Linked DNA regions of Homo sapiens. The protein of the gene in region 1 purifies or fractionates together with the protein of each later gene. This does not show direct contact. Each region holds a gene or a part of one and is shown on either strand. Other genes may lie near its edges.

Evidence for each region.
Region 2: the proteins of DCLK1 (region 1) and RAB40B purify together in Homo sapiens (affinity purification with western blotting, with the first as the bait; one study listed by BioGRID). This does not show direct contact.
Region 3: the proteins of DCLK1 (region 1) and CGN purify together in Homo sapiens (affinity purification with mass spectrometry, with the first as the bait; one large-scale study listed by BioGRID). This does not show direct contact.
Region 4: the proteins of DCLK1 (region 1) and ITM2B purify together in Homo sapiens (co-immunoprecipitation; one large-scale study listed by IntAct). This does not show direct contact.

What each region holds. Positions count from the first base shown.
Region 1 is NC_000013.11:35,805,246-35,810,329, forward strand, and holds part of DCLK1 (serine/threonine-protein kinase DCLK1), read right to left. Parts: intron 3,851-5,084; coding exon 3,773-3,850; intron 3,076-3,772; coding exon 2,979-3,075; intron 535-2,978; coding exon 454-534; intron 1-453.
Region 2 is NC_000017.11:82,691,491-82,696,574, forward strand, and holds part of RAB40B (ras-related protein Rab-40B), read right to left. Parts: exon of another isoform or gene 4,899-5,084; intron 1-4,898. UniProt on the Homo sapiens protein: RAB40B small GTPase acts as substrate-recognition components of the ECS(RAB40B) E3 ubiquitin ligase complex which mediates the ubiquitination of target proteins.
Region 3 is NC_000001.11:151,513,511-151,518,594, forward strand, and holds part of CGN (cingulin), read left to right. Parts: intron 1-4,995; 5' UTR 4,996-5,009; coding exon 5,010-5,084. UniProt on the Homo sapiens protein: Probably plays a role in the formation and regulation of the tight junction (TJ) paracellular permeability barrier.
Region 4 is NC_000013.11:48,235,330-48,240,413, reverse strand, and holds part of ITM2B (integral membrane protein 2B), read right to left. Parts: intron 1-5,084. UniProt on the Homo sapiens protein: Plays a regulatory role in the processing of the amyloid-beta A4 precursor protein (APP) and acts as an inhibitor of the amyloid-beta peptide aggregation and fibrils deposition. Plays a role in the induction of neurite outgrowth.

The sequences.
Region 1 (5,084 bases):
CCTGTAACTGTCCTGGCACATATGAGGGGGAGGAACAAAATGGAACACAACACTTTTTTCTTTTTTTTTTAGATGATGTCTCACTCTGTCATTCAGGTTGGAGTGCAGTGGCACGATCTTGGCTTACTACCACCTCTGGTTTCCAGGGTCAAGCAATCCTACCACCTCAGCCTCCTGAGTAGCTGGGACCACAGGCTTGTGCCACTATGCCCAGCTAATTTTTTGTATTTTTTGGTAGAGATGGGGTTTTGCCATGTTGCCCAAGCTGTCCTCGAACTCCTGAGCTCAGGCAATCCACCCACCTCGGCCTCCCAAAGGGCTGAGATTACAGGCGTGAGACACTGCGCCTGGCCCACAACACTTTCAAAAGGAGGCAATAACATTAGAAAATCTGCAACTGATTTTTAAAAGGAATGTTAGGAGAGAACAAAGGAAATGGTGCGAGTCACTTACATTAACCCAGGGATGCTCAAGTACTTGAACAGCAGAAAATCGCTGATCTACATCGACCAACAGCATCATGGTAATGAGCTCCTGTGAAGGGGAACGTTAGAGTCCATTTATCTGAATTTAAGGTGAAAAGCTGTATGTGTGCAAATGCAAGAGTTCTCTTTTAGTTTCGAAAAGCATTTGTAAAAGCTCTAAATCTTAAATACATCAACTCCACTTACCTGTGGCTATTTATCACCTTCAAAAGTTAAAAATGGTAAGCACTTGGAATTGTAAATACATAGCTTGTGGTTGAATAAAAATTAAATTAATATCAGAATCATTTTCATAAAAATGTTTGTAATAGAAAAGAAATTATACAAGTTAAGGAATTAATATTCCTTTCTTTGTCTAGCATTTTGCATGTTAAAGACAGATTTATTAATTAGTTTAATATAGAAGTCACATTTAAAAAAACACTTTACTTAAAATTTCACTTTAGCAGCTGAAAGGAAAAATGAAAATTTCCCCCTAATTTCAAGACGGCATACTTAGGTTTGAAAGAAAGGTATGAGGAAAGACATAGAATTGGGTCTTTCCCCAATTCTGGGTGGCAAGATAGAATTGATCCTTTAGTAGCTAAAGAATTCTAAAGAAACATGTTACAATTGCTTGAAAAATTTCCAGACAAATCAATACAAAGAAAAATAGAACTATTGAGAGGTAAACAATTTCATCATCCTGAAATTAATGGAACTTCCTCATGAGCTCAAATGGACTTGGACCAGGAATGCTCTACCTGGGTCTTAACGATGAGTATGCTATACAATTGTCCACTCTGGATTAGAAGTTCCCATGTCACAAAATGGTTAGATATGCATTATCCAGTTCCTTACATACACAGGCTTTATAGTACCACTCGGGAAGGGGGTGATTTAATTTCATTGAGGGAGAGAGTTCACTCAGCCTTCTTCATTCAGTTTCTAACTTGGATCAGAACTCGTGAAAGTATCTGCTGTGTGTGATGCCCTTTGCAGGTGCTATGGAGGTGTAGGAGATGGTCCTATTTGTCAGTAACTGTGAGCCCTCAGATCCTGCAGTGATGGCATGGGGAGCTGGACAGGTTCCTGAAGAGCCCCCGGCCCTGCAGCTGTATCGTCCCATCTCCTTTAGCCTGCGCCTTTCTCTGACACTCCCTTTCTGGCAGCTTCCTGGACAGTTGAAGAAAATGAGAGACTTGCACTCAATATGCATCATTTTCTACACAAAGTGGTCATGTCTGAGGGGTTGGCTTTTAAAGGGAACTCACATTCAGGACATGACAAAAGCAAAGGCATAAACATTGAGCAATCAAAAGATAATTATTTCTCAAGATAATTATTGAGAACATTTTTCTCAAATTTTTAAACATTTAAGTCAGCACTCGGAGACATAAATTTTAAAAAGAGCAATGAAAAGGTTTTCCTTTTTCTCCTCAAGGTCTACAAACATCTCAATGTAAGATTTTTATAGCCTTCTTAGAAGTTGATTTATCATAAATATTATTTAATGTGGTAAAATATACATAAAATTTACCACTTCAACCATTTTCAAGTGCACAGTTCACTGACATTCAGTGCATTCACATTGTTGTGCAACCATCACCTTCATCCATGTTAAGGACTGATCTTTTAGTTTCATGGGATAAAAACAATGAACCTTGTGTTTTCCTCCCCCTCTGCCTCTAAATCCTGGCTATTATTCAAGGTTCAACTTAAATCATAGCTTCCCCATAAAGTCTTTCTTGATGATTTCAACCTACGTTGAGGTTGAGTTTTCTTCCTTCTGATTAATTGATGGATTCATTCATATACTTGTTCATTTATTCAGTATACATTGAGCACCAGTATGCTGGTCATACTTTAGGCAGGGATAGTACAGCAATGGACAAAATAGATAAAAATCCCTGCCTTCGCAGAATTTGCATTCTAGTGGAGAGAGTCTGGAAATGAACTATATAAAGAAGACATGCCTACTTATTTATATCTATCTTTTTTTGGGTAGAGAGATAGGTAGTTAGATAGCACACCAGATGGACACACAGGTGTTAAGTGTTCTGGAGAAAAATAAAACAGACAAGTAGGATACAGCAAGCCAGGTAAGGTTTAAGAGATGCAATTGGAACCAGGATGGTCTGGGAAGGCTTCACTGGGAAATTAAGTCATTAAGTCAAGAGCTGAGAGAGGTGAAACCACAGGCCATATAGAAATCTGAGCTGGGCTCAAGCCTGGCGAGGGTGGGGCACAGCAAGAGGCTATAGCAATGTCACTGGAATGGCACCTGAGAGAGATGAAGGCAGCAGATGGAGACACTTGATAAGTACTTGTTGGGATGTCTGGGAACAGATGACTTGATGACTGTGAAATCTTGGAAAACCTAGCAATTACAACTAAAATGTGTACAGAAATCATACTTATGATGTCATTAGTTTCTTTGCACACAATGATTTGGAAAAATAATTCCGTTAAGACACACAGAATATAGGGAAGAGGAAGGCACTGGACACCTACCTTTGCAGAATCGGAAACATTATCCCAGTATGGAGAAGGAAAGTCCACCTGCCCCATCAAAATCTGATCAAAAAGCACCTCCTGGTCATCACCACTTCTGTTTAGGTGAACGACAACAAGGAAAAACAGCACTAAGATATCAACTCAGTGTACATCTTTTCAGTCTTAGGCACTGGAGCCCTTCCTTTCCCCCCATAAATGTGTAAAAATGTGTATTTTTAATCGATTGAAAAATGTCAATGTGGATCTGTTTTGGTAAATTAAGAAAGAGTTTTTGGGCCGGGTGCGGCGGCTCACACCTGTATTCCCAGCATTTCAGGAGACTGAGGCAGGTAGATCACTTGAAGTCAGGAGTTCAATACCAGCTTGGCCAACATGGTGAAACCCCCATCTCTACTAAAAATACAAAAAGTAACTGGTGTGGCGGCGCACGCCTGTGATCCCAGCTATTCAGGAAGCTGAGGCAGGAGAACTGCTTGAACTTGGGAGGCAGAGGTTGCAGTGAGCTGAGACTGTGCCACTGCACTCCAGACTGAGCAAAAGAGAGACTCTGTCTCAAAACCAGAAAGAAAAAAAAAAAAAGAAAGAATGAGTTTTTAATGATATGGGGAAGAAATATGGAAGGCATATAAATTAGCATGCATGACATAACAGGGAAAAAATAACAGGGATTGCAAGTAAAGTTCTTGTGCTCTTTTCCTGCTGCAGGCTCCTTTGTGCAAGAAGGGCTAATGGATCACTCAGAGAGTAGAGAAATGCTTTGTCGGCGCTGAATAAAAGATTGTTGCCCATACCCACGGAATGGAGGGAAACCACACAGCAGGATATAAGTGATTACACCTGCTGCCCAGATGTCCACCTTGAGGCCGTATCTGGAAAAATAAGGGATGTTAGAGTTAGGAGGGTCAGGCTCGGACAAATTATGCAGCTTGGTAAAATCAATGACTTTCCTCCTCCAAGCCAAAAATAAAACCAAACAAAATAACAATCCCAACAACAAACGCTAAACTAAAACCCACCACCTAAACAGAGTTCAAAGAAAAAGTTTAAAAAATAATAATTTTAAAAAAGACCAAGGTGCAGGAATAAAAATCAAAGGAATGCATTGCTGGACTTATTTGTAAATATCAGTAAATGAAGGTTTTCAGCAAAAAGGTTTATTATAGTAATAACAATTCTGAGATAAGGATGGACCCTTGAGATAAACTCCCTCACTTTAGGAATAATAATTATTTCTAGAACGTTTTCCAATTTATAGAGCACTGACATACATGATCGTACTTTGTTTTCCTAGCAACTCTGTAGGTTGGACAAGACAAGTATTGCTTATTGTACAGAAGAGAGAAAACAGGTTCAGATGGGTGAGTAATTTTGCTTAAGATCACACAGTTAGTGTCAGAGCTGGTCCCCAATATGGTCTTCAAGACCCACCACTTCCTCCCAGCAGCAAGCAGAGCATGTCCCAGTAGAAAGTGTGTCTGTGCCCCAGGCAGCCCCACCTGAGGGAGGTCAGACAAGGCTATGGATGTGGGCTCCCACCTCATTCAAATTTGCCAAGTAGCAAAGTCCTCATTCCCTCACATCTCGCCTCAGGAATTTCCCTATTGGGATTCCCTTCTCATCTATTTGGTTTTTCTGCCCTTGTGGTCTATGGTACAAGCAAAAAACAAAACAAAACAAAACCTCGAAAAACTATCTCCAACTGGTCACAGGGGAGAGTGCCACCTAGATTCCCAGCTGTGGACTGAAACTGCTAATGAGAAGAAAAAGTAGGGCTGCCTCCCCTCAGTGCCCCACCCTGTTATTCCTTCTGCTTAAGGATGGCACCTCAGAGCCTGCCTATGGCCCTTGGTAAGAAATAGGGCTTCTTACCAAAGGAGTCTTTGACTCAGGCTGACCTGAGTTCAAATCCTGACTCAACCACTAAAACTAATCATGAGCTTGCATGGTATCTAACCCATTAGAGTTTCAATTTATTGAAGTGCAAAATGGGAATCAAACCATCGACTGGAAGAGTAAGAAGTAAAGGAGTTTCAGGCCTAGCATATTGTGGGGTCTTAGTAAGGAATAGGCTACCCCACCCTTCTCCCCACATTCATCTGATTC
Region 2 (5,084 bases), on another chromosome or scaffold:
GCCTGACCAACATGGTGAAACCCCCATCTCTACTAAAAATACAAAAATTAGCCGGGCATGGTACACCTGTAATCCCAGCTACTCGGGGGGCTGAGGCAGGAGAATCACTTGAACCCAGGAGGCAGAGGTTGCAGTGAGCCGATGTGGCACCATTGCACTCCAGCCTGGGCGACAGAGCGAGACTCCATCTCAAAAAACAACAACAAAAAAATGGGCAAAAGGCAGAAAACTCAGCACTCAGAGAAGGGACACAATCTGGTGTTGGAAGCACCAGCTGGGGTGGCGGAAAGGCAGGGCCCTGCTGTGCCCCGACCATATCCTGGGCCAGCCTGGTGACGCCTTCCTTCTACCCCTGCCTGGAGAGAAATGGAACTTCCGAGGGGAAAGAGCGTGAACCGGGGACCCAGCTGCCAGACGGAAATGGGGTCCAGGCCACCAGGAACCAGGGGTACCAGCGTGTGTGAGGTGTGTTGCAGAACAGAAGACACTTCCCTGGGTAACCAGCAGAGCAGTGGGGCCCGCACGGTCCGTGGGCTGAGGTGACAGGCAGAGCAGTGGGGCCCGCACGGTCCGTGGGCTGAGGTGACAGGCAGAGCAGTGGGGCCCGCACGGTCCGTGGGCTGAGGTGACAGGCAGAGCAGTGGGGCCCGCACGGTCCGTGGGCTGAGGTGACAGGCAGAGCAGTGGGGCCCGCACGGTCCGTGGGCTGAGGTGACAGGCAGAGCAGTGGGGCCCGCACGGTCCGTGGGCTGAGGTGACAGGCAGAGCAGTGGGGTCCACATAGTCTGTGGAGTCAAGTTGCCGACAGGGTCCAAGATCCAAGAACTCTGCCCTGCAACTACAGACCGAGAGGAAGACAAACGCCCAGGAGGGAGAATCCAGGCCTCGCTGACCGTATCGGAGCAAAGGGAACACCTGGGCACAGCTGCCTGAGCAAGGACAAGATGCATCTGACTGCCCTGGCCAGCACAGGGCATGCCCATCCACAGAAGACAGAGTCTGACCCGGGGCACACACACAAGAGACAGGCGGGCCAACGGTGCAGACCCAGACCCACAGGCGGGCTCTCAGCTGGGACAACGGTGGCCGTGCGATGCGGGGTGGGGGTGGGGGGCATCCGACTGAAAAAAGTGTGTCTCGATCCCTGCCTCAGGCCTCACCCCAGCTGGAGGCAGCCATTCATGTCAAAGGTAAAACGATGCTTGTAGAGAACATTTTTTTTTTAAATCTGGGAGCAGCAAAGGTTTGTTCAACAGGACCCAAAGTCCTAACCACAAAACACTGATAATTTGGATTATGTTAAAATTAAGAGCTTCTGTTCATCCAAAAATACCACTGAAGGAGTGGAAAGGTGACGTGCAGATGAGAGTGGCTATCCAGGATCACACAGCCGACAAAGGACTCACAGCCAGAATCTATATTTTAAACACTCCTAGCAAGCATTGAAAGAAATTCAACCTAAATGAAAAAACAGACATAAGACTTGGGCATTTTTCTTCTTTCTGTTTCTATTTTTTTTCTTTTTTTTTGGAGACAGAGTCCCACTCTGTTGCCCAGGCTGGTGTGCAGTGGTGCGATCTCAGCTCACTGCAACCTCCGCCTCCCGGGTTCAAGTGCTTCTCCTGCCTCAGTCTCCCGAGTAGCTGGGAATACAGGTGCCCGCCACCACACCTGGCTAATTTTTTTTTGTATTTTTAGTAGAGATGGGGTTTCACCAAGTTAGCCAGGCTGGTCTCGAACTCTTGACCTCTGGTGATCCATCCGCCTCGGCCTCTGAAAGTGCTGGGATTGCAGACGTGAGCCACCAGGCCCGGCCGACTTGGGCATTTTTCCAAAGAGGAATTTCGCATAGACGTATGAAAAGGTGCTCAGTCATCAGAGAAATGCAAAGGCAAACTACACACCACAGAAGGACAGAGACAGCCCCGTGCTGAGAGGGAAGATGATGCAGCCGGGGCCTCCAGCTTTGCTGGTGGGAGCACCAAGTGAAAAATGCTTTGCGAGAATCTACTACAGGGAAACCTGTGCAGACATTTGCGTGCCTGATACCCAGCGATTCACACGCATAGGGACCTTTCAACAGAAATGCAAAGGATGTGTACTAGGAATGTTCATGGCAGAACAAACCATAATAGTCAGAAACCTGAAACCACCCAAATGCCCGTCACCCGCAGGATGGAGAATAAATCACGGTAGAGTCACAAAAGGGATGTCACCACCATGAGAATTAACACCCCACAGCCTCACACAACATGGGAGAGTCTCTTTCACATAACGGGGGCCAGAGACACAGTCACAGAAGTGCACATTGGCCAGGCGCAGTGGCTCACGCCTGTAATTCCAGCACTTTGGGAGGCCGAGGCGGGCAGATCACCTTAGGCCCGGAGTTCCAGACCATCCTGGCTAACAAAGTGAAACCCCGTCTCTACTAAAAATACAAAAATTAGCCAGGCGTGGTGGCGCACACCTGTAGTCCCAGCTACTCAGGAGGCTGAGACAGGAAAATCGCTTGAACCTGGGAGGCAGAGGTTGCAGTGAGCTGAGATCGTGCCACTGCACTCCAGCCTGGGCAACAGAGCGAGACTCCATCTCAAAAAAAAAAAAAAAAAAAAGGAAAACTCCAAAACTAAGAGAAAATTAGGAGACAAAAATAACATCTTTACTGAACTAATCAATAAGTTAGAAACAGCTAGAACAGTTTACTGAAATCAAAATTACCAACAAATAGGAAAGGCATAAGATAATCAGAAAAATTCAGGCCGCGCACTGTGGCTCACACCTGTAATCCCAGCACTTTGGGAGGCTGAGCTAAGCAGATCACCTGAGGTTAGGGGTTCGAGACCACCCTGGCCAACATGGAAACCCCGTCTCTACTAAAAATACAAAAACAAATTGGCCCAGTGTGGTGGCAGGCACCTGTAATCCCAGCTACCTGGGAGGTTGAAGCAGGCGAATCACTTGAACCTGGGAGGTGGAGGTTGCAGTGAGGTGAGATCACACCACTGCACTCCAACCTGGGCAACAGATTGAGACTACATCTAAGAAAAAAAAAATACATACACACACACATACACACACACACCTGGAAACTCAAAGAGTACGTTCATACTAAAAGTTTAACACAAACATTCAACTCTGAGACATGGTCTGGTTAAGCAGAAGAACTATGAGACAAAAAGAAAGAATTCCTCAGAAATTCATGAAGGGAAGGACAAGCCTCCACATGGGGAAAAATCAGCTGACCTCAGGCTTCCCCACAGCACATGTGAGCCAGGGGATGGTGGAATGACAGCTGCAAAGTGTTGGGGAAGAAAATAAATCTAAGAGTATTATACCCAGCCAAGATATCTCTACATTGTTCAAAGATAAAGACCATGGGCAGACATTCTCAGACACAAAAAAACACTCAGGAAATACTCGAGTCCTTCTGAAAAAACGACTGATAATGAAATCTAGGTGATTAAGAGGGACAGCACAATGAACAGAGACATAAATGGTAAAAGGACTTTGGTGAGCACTGACTGTATTTAAATGTTGAATTGATACTAAATCATTGCGGGCACTACAGCCACAATACAGAAGCAAGGGCTATAAACCTGGACAATATAAAAATAACAGCCTGGGCTACAAAACTCAGGAGGAATTGGGTGGAGGGAAATGGAGTGTGGAGTTACGAACGCCCTCATCTTTCTTTCTTTCTTTCTTTCTTTTTTTTTTTTCGAGACAAAATCTCACTCTGTCGCTGGGCTGGAGTGCAATGGTGTGATCTCAGCTCACTTCACCCTCCACCTCCTGGGTTCCAGCGATTCTCCTGCCTCAGCCTCCCAAGTAGCTGGGATTACAGGCACGCGGCACCACGCCCAGCTAATTTTTGTATTTTTAGTAGAGATAGGGTTTCACCATGTTGACCAGGCTGGTCTCAAACTCCTGACCTCATGACCCGCCCACCTTGGCCTCCCCAAGTGCTGGGATTACAGCTGTGAGCCACTGCGCCCGGCTGCCCTCACCTTTCAATAACAAGCACCTATAGTGTTTCTCAGCGAAACATGTCATTAAAAAAAAAAAAAAACATGGCCAGGTGCTGTGGCTCAGGCCTATAATCTCAGCATTTGAGGAGGCCAAAAAAGGAGGATGGCTTGAACCCAGGAGGGTCAAGGCTGCAGTGATCTGCAATCACACCACTGCACTCCAGCCTGGGCGGCAGAGAAGACCCTGTCTCTGAAAAAATAAAAAACAAAACATAATGATCTCAACTTCTTACTATTTTTCAGAATATCTTTTCTTAACTCTAAAACAAATATTTGGTAAATCAAAAACCTGCAAGGGTACACCCGTGATATCAGTTTTTTCTACAGCAGCTCAGGCCAAGTAGACAATAAAGCTCTTGATGGGATTTTTTTTTTAAGACAGAATTTCGCTCTTGTTGCCCAGGCTGGAGTACAATGGTGCGATCTCTGCAACCTCCGCCTCCCGGGTTCAAGCAATTCTCCTGCCTCAGCCTCCCGAGTAGCTGGGATTACAGACATGTGACACCATGCTCGGCTAATTTTTGTATTTATAGTAGAGACAGGGTTTCTCCATGTTGATCAGGCTGGTCTCGAACCCCTGACCTCAGGTGATCCGCCCGCCTTGGCCTCCCAAAGCCGGGATTACAGGTGTGAGCCACCGCCCCCGGCCCGGTGGGAGGTGTATTTTTAGCCTAAATCCTCCCTCCGTGTCAAGGGAAAGCCTTTATTACAAAGCATTGGACCATTGTTTTGGTTCGTCCTCAGTTCGGCATGTAGCAACCAAAAGTCACGCAGCAGAAGCATCCCCGAGCCTCCATTCAAACCAACCAGAAGGAAGTTTCACAAACATTCTGTGCGTGACCCTTCTCACACACGCCCCACGGCACTCACCTTCAATCAAACTCAACACTGTCAACCGTCTGCTCCCCCAAAACACGCACAGCTCTTAAAGCGCCATATTCGTCTGGGCGTACACGTTGTTGGGTGCTTTATTCCTGTAGCTCTGGTAGGGTTCATCCCTCACTGAGCCCAGACCCCGAGGGCACAGTGCAGACAAAGCCCTGTCCTCCAGGCGCT
Region 3 (5,084 bases), on another chromosome or scaffold:
TTGTTTCCTCTGAGGGGATTCTAATCTCTATACCTCAAGTTCTCCCGTTTTCTAAATCTGCCAATTATTTAGCATCAAGCATATTGCCTGGCCCTATGTGAATCAGTCCTTCCTCCACACACCCGAAACCACCCCACCCCCACTTCCTGCCAGAAGTCCAGATACCCTGTCACTCCTAGTTGGAAACCAGATGCATATGGCTGGGCCAGAGGTGATGGAATTGGGGCAGGGCAGGCTAATGAGTAACTCAGGGAGAAGTGGCTGTCTGGTACAGGTGTAGAGTGTTCTCCCACTCCTTGCAGGCAGGAAAGGCAGAAGCAGACAGATGCACCTGAATCAACTTGTGGTCTGGTCTCTTCCTGGAGTACAGTTGGTGAGGAGAGCCCTGGACATGTGATAGGGGAGAGAAAAGTAGGGTCAGGCATTGGTGAGGGCGCAGGCCCTGGACTCCATGTTGCCTGGCCCTTGATCACTGTTTACCTGCCTGTCTCTGGGGCTTACGCAAGGCCTCAGAGCTGCCCTGCTGCCTTGGTCCCGCCCCACTGTCCTCTGTAACCAAAGGCGGGTAGGTTTCGGGTTTTCCATGTTGAATCATTTAGAGCCCTGCTTTCTGACCCACCCCAAAGATCCCTTCAGCCCTCCTGGCCCCTGATCCACATGTCCTTGGACTGAAGGTGATTGAGGTTAGGGAGTTAACCTAACCTGGGACCTGGGGGAGTGTTCAACACTGCCTCTGAATAATTTAGTGCTGTTGCTCAAGGGTCTGTGCCCTCTGCTGGGCCTAGGCTGGGAACTCCTTGACCTGGATCTGGAAGATCAGTAGATGTACTGACAGGGTAGACTGCATCATGAATAAATCATATGGCTTCTGAGAGCTGGCAATCTAGGCACTTCTGGTTCTAAGATCATGACTACATAGGGCAGCAAGTCTGGACCAGGAGGAGGTCCTGTTGCTAAGAGGTCCTGTTACTGAGGCAAAGTAGATTTGTCCTGGGCAAATCTCCCCACTGCTGTGCAAGTGGGCTTTAGTTCAGGATACAGCCTTTAACAAATATTTGTTGACATCTACCACGTGTCCAAACACCTGGGGACACAGTGGTTAGCTGCTAGCCATGGTCTTTGCCCTCCAGGAGCTTATTATCTCGTAGGGGAGACAGACAGGAAATAATTACTCCAATAAATGTATAAATATAAACTGGAGTAAACCTGCTGAAGGACAACTATAGAGCGTATAACGTGGATCTGACCTGGTTTGTGGGAGGCTGATTTGTGAGAACTGACCTTGTTTGTGGGAGTGGTGGTCAGGGAAGGCTTCTCTGAAGAAGTGACATCTTTCTATGAACCAGGTGAAGCCAAAAGTGCCTGTTGGACAAAGTAGCATGTGTGAAGGATGATATTTGTTGTCAGCTTTGTGATAGTCACATGCTAAATGTTTTCATGTTTAATATCTTGTTTTTCTCTCCTTTTTATTAAATTAGAACCCAAGTTCAATAAAGTACAAACATCTTTTTTTTTTTTTTTGAGATGGAGTCCTGCTCTGTGACCCAGGCTGGCGGATCTCGGCTCACTGCAGCCTGTGCCTCTCAGGTTTAAGCAATTCTCCTGCCTCGGCCTCCCCAGTAGCTGGGATTCCAGGCGTGCACCACCACGCACAGCTAATTTTTGTATTTTTAGTAGACGTGGGGTTTCACCATGTTGGCCGGGCTGTTATTGAACTTCTGACTTCAGGTGATCTGCCTATCTCAGCCTCCCAAAGTGTTGGGATTACAGGCATGAGCCACTGCGCCTGGCCTAAATAAAGTACAAAGATCTTAAGGGTATAACTTGGTACTTTTTTATCATTGTATATGCCCATATAATTATTTATTATCTCATTCTCACAGATAATAACCTTGTGGGGTATTATCATTATACCCATTTTACAGATGAGGAAACTGAGGCACAGAAAAGTTGTGGGTTTTTTGTTGTCGTTGTTGTTTTTGAGACAGAGTCTTACTCTATTGCCCAAGCTGGAGTGCAGTGGTGCAATTACAGCTCACTGCAGCTTCAACCTCCTGGGCTCAGGTGATCCTCCTGCCTCAGCCTCCTAAGTCGCTGGGACTACAGGTGTGTACCACCATACTCGGCTAGTTTTTTGTATTTTTTGTAGAGATGGGGTTTTGCCATATTGCTCAGGCTGGTCTCAAACTCCCGAGTTCAAGTGATCCACACACCTTGGCCTCCCAAAATGCTGGGATTACAGGCGTGAGCCACCACACCAGAAAAGTTGTGATTTGCCTCAGGTTGCATACATCAGGTGAAGAGCAGAGACAGGATTCCAGACCAGATCCTGACTCTAGCCCAGTGCATTTTCTTCTACTGGATGAGTGGTTTGGAGAACTACTTTACCTGTCTGCCTTCACAAGCCTTTTAAGATGGGGTGATAAAAGTTTGGATGTGCTGTCTCCTCAGGGAGAGTGTATTGCTTTCATCATTTTCTCATGGAGTCCCAGGGCCAAAAAGATGAAGAACAATTCCTAATAAAGGGCTCTTCTCTCCCTGTTCCTTTCTCTTGAGAATTGCTGGGAATTCTAAGAATGCTCTTCTTCAGATAGACCTTCCCCACCAAGCCCTTTGTCACCTGTAGCTCTGCCTCTCCCATCCCTTCCCCTCCCTTCTCATCTCACCCTGGCTTGCTAGCACTTTACAGTCCCTGAAAGGGGCCTTGCCAAGTTTCCTTGGCCCAGAACTCCATGGGGAGGTTGAGTTGGGTATGTTTGTGTTTCTGTCTGGCACGTTAGAGGCTCATCCTCCAGTTTGGTGCTAGGCTCTGGTGGAGACTAGCAGAAGGGGTGGGGAAGCTGAATTTTTTTATTTGCTTGGAAGACAATCTCTCCCCCAAGTTCCTGGAGCCAGAGCATACCTGGAATACATTCCATTTGCTGACTCTGAGCTTTAGCAATGTGGACCTGGGAAGCTGGCCTATGGATGGTGTTGGCTCTGGCTCTCAGCTGAGACAAGTTTACCTGACCTGGGGCCCCTTAAAGTGGCACTTTTTTTTTTTTTTTTTGAGATAGAGTTTCACTCTTGTTGCCCAGGCTGGAGTGCAATGGCGTGATCTTGGGTCACTGTAACCTCCGTCTCCCAGGTTCAAGCGATTCTCCTGCCTCAGCCTCCCGAGCAGCTGGGATTACAGGCCCCCGCTACCACGCCCGGCTGATTTTGTATTTTTAGTAGAGACAGGGTTTCACCATGTTGGTCAGGCTGGTCTCAAACTCCTGACCTCAGGTGATCCACACGCCTTGGCCTCTGAAAATGCTGGGATTACAGGCGTGAGCCACCATGCCCGGCCGAGTGGCACAGTTTTTAAACCACATTTAAATATTTTTGGCTGGGTGCGTGGCTCATGCCTGTAATCCCAGCACTTTGGGAGGCTGAGGCGGGCAGATCACCTGAGGTCAGGAGTTTGAGACCAGCCTGGCCAATATGGTGAAACCCCATCTCTACTAAAAACAAAAATTAGCCGGGCATGGTGGCAGGTGCCTGTAATCCCAGCTACTCGGGAGGCTGAGGCAGGAGAATTGCTTAAACTCGGGAGGCAGAGGTTGCAGTGAACCAAGATCACGCCATTGCACTTCAGCCTGGGCAACAAGAGCAAAACTCTGTCTCAAAAAAAACACAACCTTTTCTTGAATAGATAATACATCTACGTGGTTCCAAATTCAAAAGGGACATAAGAGATATACAGTAGAATGTCCACTCCTTTCTGCTCTTCCAGAGAATAGAAACTCTCCCATCCCTGTTCCTAGTCCTCAGTTCCTCCACCTCAAAGGCATCACTGCTATCAGTGTTTTTAAGTTTCTTTCCAGAAGTGGGATGATATACTTTGAGGTCTTCTATATTTTAAATGAGCTCTGGGAGAGAAGGCCCCCTTTTCTCCAGTGAGATGGAGGTATCTGCTCAGCAGGGTGTGGGTTCTGCCTTCCCTTGGTGGGAGGAAGGGAAGAAGGCACACAGTGTTTTTTTTTTTTTTTTTTGGAGATAGAGTTTTGCTTTTGTCACCCAAGCTGGAGTGCAGTGGCGCAATCTCGGCTCACTGCAACCTCCACCTCCCGGGTTCAAGCAATTCTTCTGCTTCAGCCTCCTGAGTAGCTGGGATTACAGGCATGCGCCACCACGCCTAGCTAAGTTTTTGTATTATTAGTAGAGACAAGGTTTCACCGTGTTGGTCAGGCTGGTCTTGAACTCCTGACCTCAGGTGATCCACCTGCCTCAGCCTCCCAAAGTGCTGGGATTATAGGCATGAGCCACTGTACCTGGCCACATGGTGGTATTATATGTATGTATGAAGATCAAGTAAAATCTTTTTTTTTTTTTTTGAGACAGGGTCTCACTCTGTCACCCAGGCTGGAGAACAGTGGCATAATCACTGCTCACTGCAGCCTCTCTCAAGCTCAAGTGATCCTCCCACCTCAGCCTCCCAAGTAGCTGGGATTACAGGTGTGCACCACCAGGCCCAGTTTATTTTTGTATTTTTTGTAGAGATGGGGTTTCACCATGTTGCCCGGACTGGTCTTGAACTCCTGAGCTCAAGCAGTCCACCCGCCTTGGCCTTCCAAAGTGGTGGGATTACAGGTGTGAGCCACTGCTCCTGGCCATCAAGCAAAATCTTTAAACTTTTAACAAAGCCTAGCTCCCCAGGGCTGTATCAGAGGAAGTGGATTCTTTTAGGTTAGTGAGTCTCAAAGTGTGGTACCTGGACCAGTAGCATCAGTATCACCTGGGGAACTTGGTTAGAAATGCAAATTCTCAAGTCCTAACCCAGACCTACTGAATCAGAAGCTCTGGAGGTTAGGTCCAGCAACCGGTATGTTAAAAGGCTCTCCAGGGGCCTTCTGTTAGTCTGAGAATCAGTGGTTTATCTAGTAGGAACTGACAGGGAAGTCAGCCCGCAGGTAGAAGTTTCATAGTTTCTAGTGAAGTCTCTCAGCCTAAACTCATTTCTTCATCTTCTAGGACTCCTCCTATTTATGGAGCAGGCACCCAACATGGCTGAGCCCCGGGGCCCCGTAGACCATGGAGTCCAGATTCGCTTCATCACAGAG
Region 4 (5,084 bases), about 12 Mb from region 1:
CCAACATGGTGAAACCCCGTCTCTATTAAAAATACAAAAAATTAGCCAGGCATAGTGGCAGGTGCCTGTAATCCCAGCTACTTGGGAAGCTGAGGCAGGAGAATCACTTGAACCCGGGAGGCAGAGGCTGCAGTGAGCCAAGATCACACCATTGCATTCCTGCCTGGGTGACAGGGCAAGACTGTTTCTCAACAAAAAAATAAATAAAAATAACAGTAGCTGAAATCTACTAATTTTTAACTCTGTTCCAGGCATTGTGCTATTATTGTTACAGATTATTATTTTCCCTATTTTGCTGATGAAAAAACTGAGACACAGAGAACTGAAGTAACTTACCCAAGGTATCAAAGTAAGTGATAGAGACAAAATTTAAATCTTTTGAAGAATGACTGTATAACCTGAATTCTGCTAGTGCTGCTGCTTCCTGAATAGCAGCAGCCCCTCCCCAACAATTCAGTGAGGGTACTGGGCAAAAAGGAGAAATATCATTCCTTTGATATTTTTCCCAACCATTAAAAAATATAAAAATCATTCTTACCCCATGGGCTACAGAAAAACAGCAGGCAGGCAGTATTTGAAGATATAGGCTATAATTTGCCAGTCCTGCGTTCCACTTTAAAGGAGATTATAAAATAGTGGCCCATGCCTTCAGTGTTTTGGGCTAAAATTGTTGTATAAATTAAAATAGTACTGATTTTTAGCTTGCCTTGGAAAATTGGAGGATCCAGCAACACTGGACTCATGTTTTAAAAATGAAAACCAAGAATATTCTTTTGTTTTTTGAGACAGAGTCTTGCTGTGTCACCCAGGCTGGAATGCAATGGCGCAATCTCAGCTCACTGCAGCCTCCATCTCCCAGATTCAAGCGATTCTCCTGTTTCAGCCTCCCAAAAAGCTGGAATCACAGGCGCATGCCACCACGCCTGGCTAATTTTTGTTTTAGTAGAGACAGAATTTTGCTATGTTGGCCAGGCTTATCTCGAACTCCTGACCTCAGGTGATCCACCAGCCTCAGTATCCCAAAGTGCTGGGATTACAGGCGGTGGCTTGCGCCTGGCAGGAAAACCAAGAATATTCTTACTTGTTTCATATGCAAAAAGTCCAGCTTCAACAATTCATCTGCTTCAGCCCAGGAGACACTGAATTTGCCTTCTCTGCTTAAGATGCCTAGCACGGCCCTAGGTAAAACTGATAGACAGGAAATTTTATGTCCCAGTATTAAAGGGAGGAAAAAATGAATTGGATAAAGTTATATAAAATGAAAAACTGAAAACTGATAATGCAAAGCTAAATAGACTAGCTCTCAAAAATCATTTTCCCCAGCATAAAAATGGGTCTGCTTTTGGATACTGCAGAGATTCAAGTGATTTAATTAACAATGCATCTTTTAAAATTTTTATATAAAATAATTTAAAACATTATAATCATATATAAGCAGAGAAAATAGTTAAGACTTAAGCTTTATCCTTAACTCATTCTGAAAACAAACAACTTTTAAAAATAATTTGCATCTTGACTGCTCTGCCTATGCAGTACCATTCTTTTACTCCTTTACTTTCTTAATAAACTTGCTTTCACTAAAAAAAAATAATAATTTGAGCCTTAAAGTTAATCATTCAAATAAACACAAAAATCCACCAAACTTGTTTTTTAAAGTATGAAATTCAACTATGCCAAAAACGGTTTATGCAAATATTTCAAAATTTCAAAGTACAAAATATCCACCACCATACTTAGTATCACTTTCCCAAATAAACGTCCAGGATATTTAACTCAGAAGTGGTATTATATATAAGCTGTGAAAATTTTATTTCTCTTTTGTCGTACTTATGTTAGTTCAACATCATAAAATTATTGCTGGTAACTTATCAGTACTGAAAGATAAAACATTAAGTGAAAAATCAGAATATATCTCTACCATAAAAACAAGGGTAATTTCCTCATCGCTACAACTCAAGATTCAAACTTTTCTGTTTAAGAATAAAAAGTCTACGTTCATTCTTACCTGATTTTTCCCCAAGTACAATTATAGAAATACTGCAAAAAGTTTTTTCCTCTAATAAAAGAGCTTAAAGAATGCACAATAATTTAAAATAATCTTGTTCATTCAATTGTTGATAACACTTATAAAATGAGGTTGTATTGTAGATCTCCTTAAAGCTATTAAAAATATGTGTTGTAAGTACTAATTAAAAGGGATAATCACAATTAAGTGGAAATTTTTCAAAAATGATGTCCTTAGTGTTATAATTTCCAATTTTCAACTTTCAGCTGTCTACTTTGGAAAAGACTTTCATTGTGAAGCACAGCTCCAGTGTTAATATTTTGTATATCATTTAGGCAAAAATCACCTCATTCAGAAATTCAGAATTGTCAAATCCTTTAACAGGTTTCAGTAACGGTCTAAAGTCCTTAATTTCTTTTCCTTTAGTCTTTAAGCTCTAATAAAATGCCACGTTTGCCAAAAAATTTAAGAGGATGATTTTACTGGTAACCCAAAAAGATTTTTTTTTCTGAGTCTTCCTTTACTGACACTGACATACAAAGCAGTACAAGAAGCTTTAGTTAAATCTAGGAATTCAGGAAGTAGTATTTCCTTTTGGAAAAAGAATGTGGGTTTTGAATAGACACGCCAGACATTTAAGTTATGGTATGATAAAACTAAGAGAAATAAAATCTCCCCCAATGACTACTTAGTACATGTTTCTATGTACATTTACCCACAAGTCAAGATTTGGAAATGCATAATAAACACCTTGTAAGTCAAATTCTAAATTAATTTAAATAGGCCTGTAACATAAACGTATTTGAGATATTTCTGCTTAAAAAATACTTCCAGTCACATAAACCTTTTATATGTCAGAGTTGAATTCCATGAGGTCACTCAGGCTTATTATGCCAAGTATATTATACTCATTTCTGTCTAGTTGGGAAGACTACAATCCTGTGCAATATGCAACCTTGCACACCCAATATGCTACAGCAGTGTCCTGTCAGGGATGTGTACACAGGAGGTCCTGCCAAGGCATTTGGGATGCACAGACGCAATTCATTTATTTCCCAGCACTAAACCCTCAATTCAGATATTAATATCCTCATGGAGAACCAAAATGTAATGTAAAAGTTTCACTGGCCAATATCTGCAAACACGGAATTACATAACTAGGTAATAAGATGCACTTTGGTTAAAGAGAACCAAGCTCTCAATCCCTTGAGAGCATTATATCAACATTATAGTAAATGGCCAGCCATGCATTTTATGTCCCTTCTCCTCACTCCCCAAAAAACACACAAACAAAACCACCACCACAAACGAAAAGCTTAATTATCAAAACCTTCAGTCTTGATTGTGTGAATAGGGAAAACCAGAAAGGGTAAAGAACCAGGGTCTAAACAGCCATTTGTCATGGGTAACTCAAAACTTTTACTGGGTGAGTCGGCCTTCACTTTCTCTCTTGCACTCACCCTGCCACTATTTTCTCTCCTATATCAGCACTTTACTTTTCTCTCTCCTTTTAAAGAATATCTACAAAGTGGGGTAGAGAGAAAGCAACACTATTTGTCAGCAAAACAACTTGCAGGGATACATATGAAGCAAGCTTAAGCTATTCTGTGGCCTGATACTGGAAAAGGGGTTTCATAAGCAGGCATTGCAACAAAGAGGTGCTGACAACTTCACTGTTCACTGTGAGGTAAACAGAAGTGACAATGTGCTTTATTACATAATACCTCTACCCATCTCCTTTCTCTTTGACCCACTGCTACTTGATATGAGGGAAGAATGTAACATGTTAAACACCAAAAGGAAGAAAGGGAATAGTCTGGTTAGAGTGAGGAGGTAGTTGCTATTTTTCACAATTAAAACAATTTAATGTCTGCCAAATATAATTATGTAATCCTAGCATCTTCATAGATTTTTGAAACTGGAAGAATCCTTACAGGCCATCTGGTCCTACCCTCTCATCTTACAGACAGAAAACCTAAAAATTTAAGCCCAAGATCAAGTAGTTATGTAATGACAAAACTGGGACTTCTGATACAGTACATCAAGTATTTTGTTATCTGCAAATATAAAACAATTTCCCAAGGTTCAAAGTATTGCCACAAAAATATATGAATTGTTGCCTATAGCATAAAACATGTATATAATTTCAAATTCACTTCTGCTACCCAAAATACATCCCATCTTTGCTGTCTCTATAGCTCTAAGAGCTTTATGCCTACTAGGAGAGGAGGAAGGTGAAAACAATTAAGGGGAAAATGCAGGAAAAGAATAAACAGCAAGCTAGTTGAGATAAAACTATCAATAGAAATGGCTGTTAGGATTAATAGCTGCTGAAAAGATAAGACTGAAAAATGGGGTAATAGAACTGTTTCTGGAGAGTTCTCACCCTGCAGAAGAAAAAAATAGAAAGACAGGAGCAATGTAAAAGTACTGGAATGCATGTTATATAAGCCAGCTGATTAGAGTGATCAGAATTCTTGTGGCATAAGGTAACAGAATCTGCATTTTAAAACCAGAGCAGGTGGTCCCTAAGAGCACATTTTGGAAAACAATGGTCTGCGGGATATTGTGATCTGGGAGGGTTAAAGATAAGAAAAATTCTTGTTCAGGAGTTCTAGGCCATTAACTAGCTTGGTTTGATTCTTTCAACCAACCAGGCAAAGGAAATGCCCTCGGCAAAACACATTAAGGCTGATTCTGTTCCCAGTCCAGGCAGTCAGACAAGGTGGCTGCCACAGAGCCACCCGCAAGGAGCCAGAGAACATTATGTAATCACTGCCCAAGCTCTGAAATGAAGAGATCAGAACTTCTTTCACAAAAGTCTGTCATTAAGGTTTTCCTTTTCCCGTTAAGCGACTGACTGATTATAAGGATTCTACTTTTAATGTAGAGAAATATTTTGTCATCCCCTAAAGAAGTCTTTCAGCTTATAGCTGGAAAAAGAATTAGTCATTTTTTATCTACCAACTCATCCGTGACTGCTGGGTGGTTTACAAAGACGACTCTGGCCCTCACTCTTTAGTCCCAGTAGTATTTTTCTTTGGATATGGAGGATCTGAGAAAATAAAAAATGGAAAAC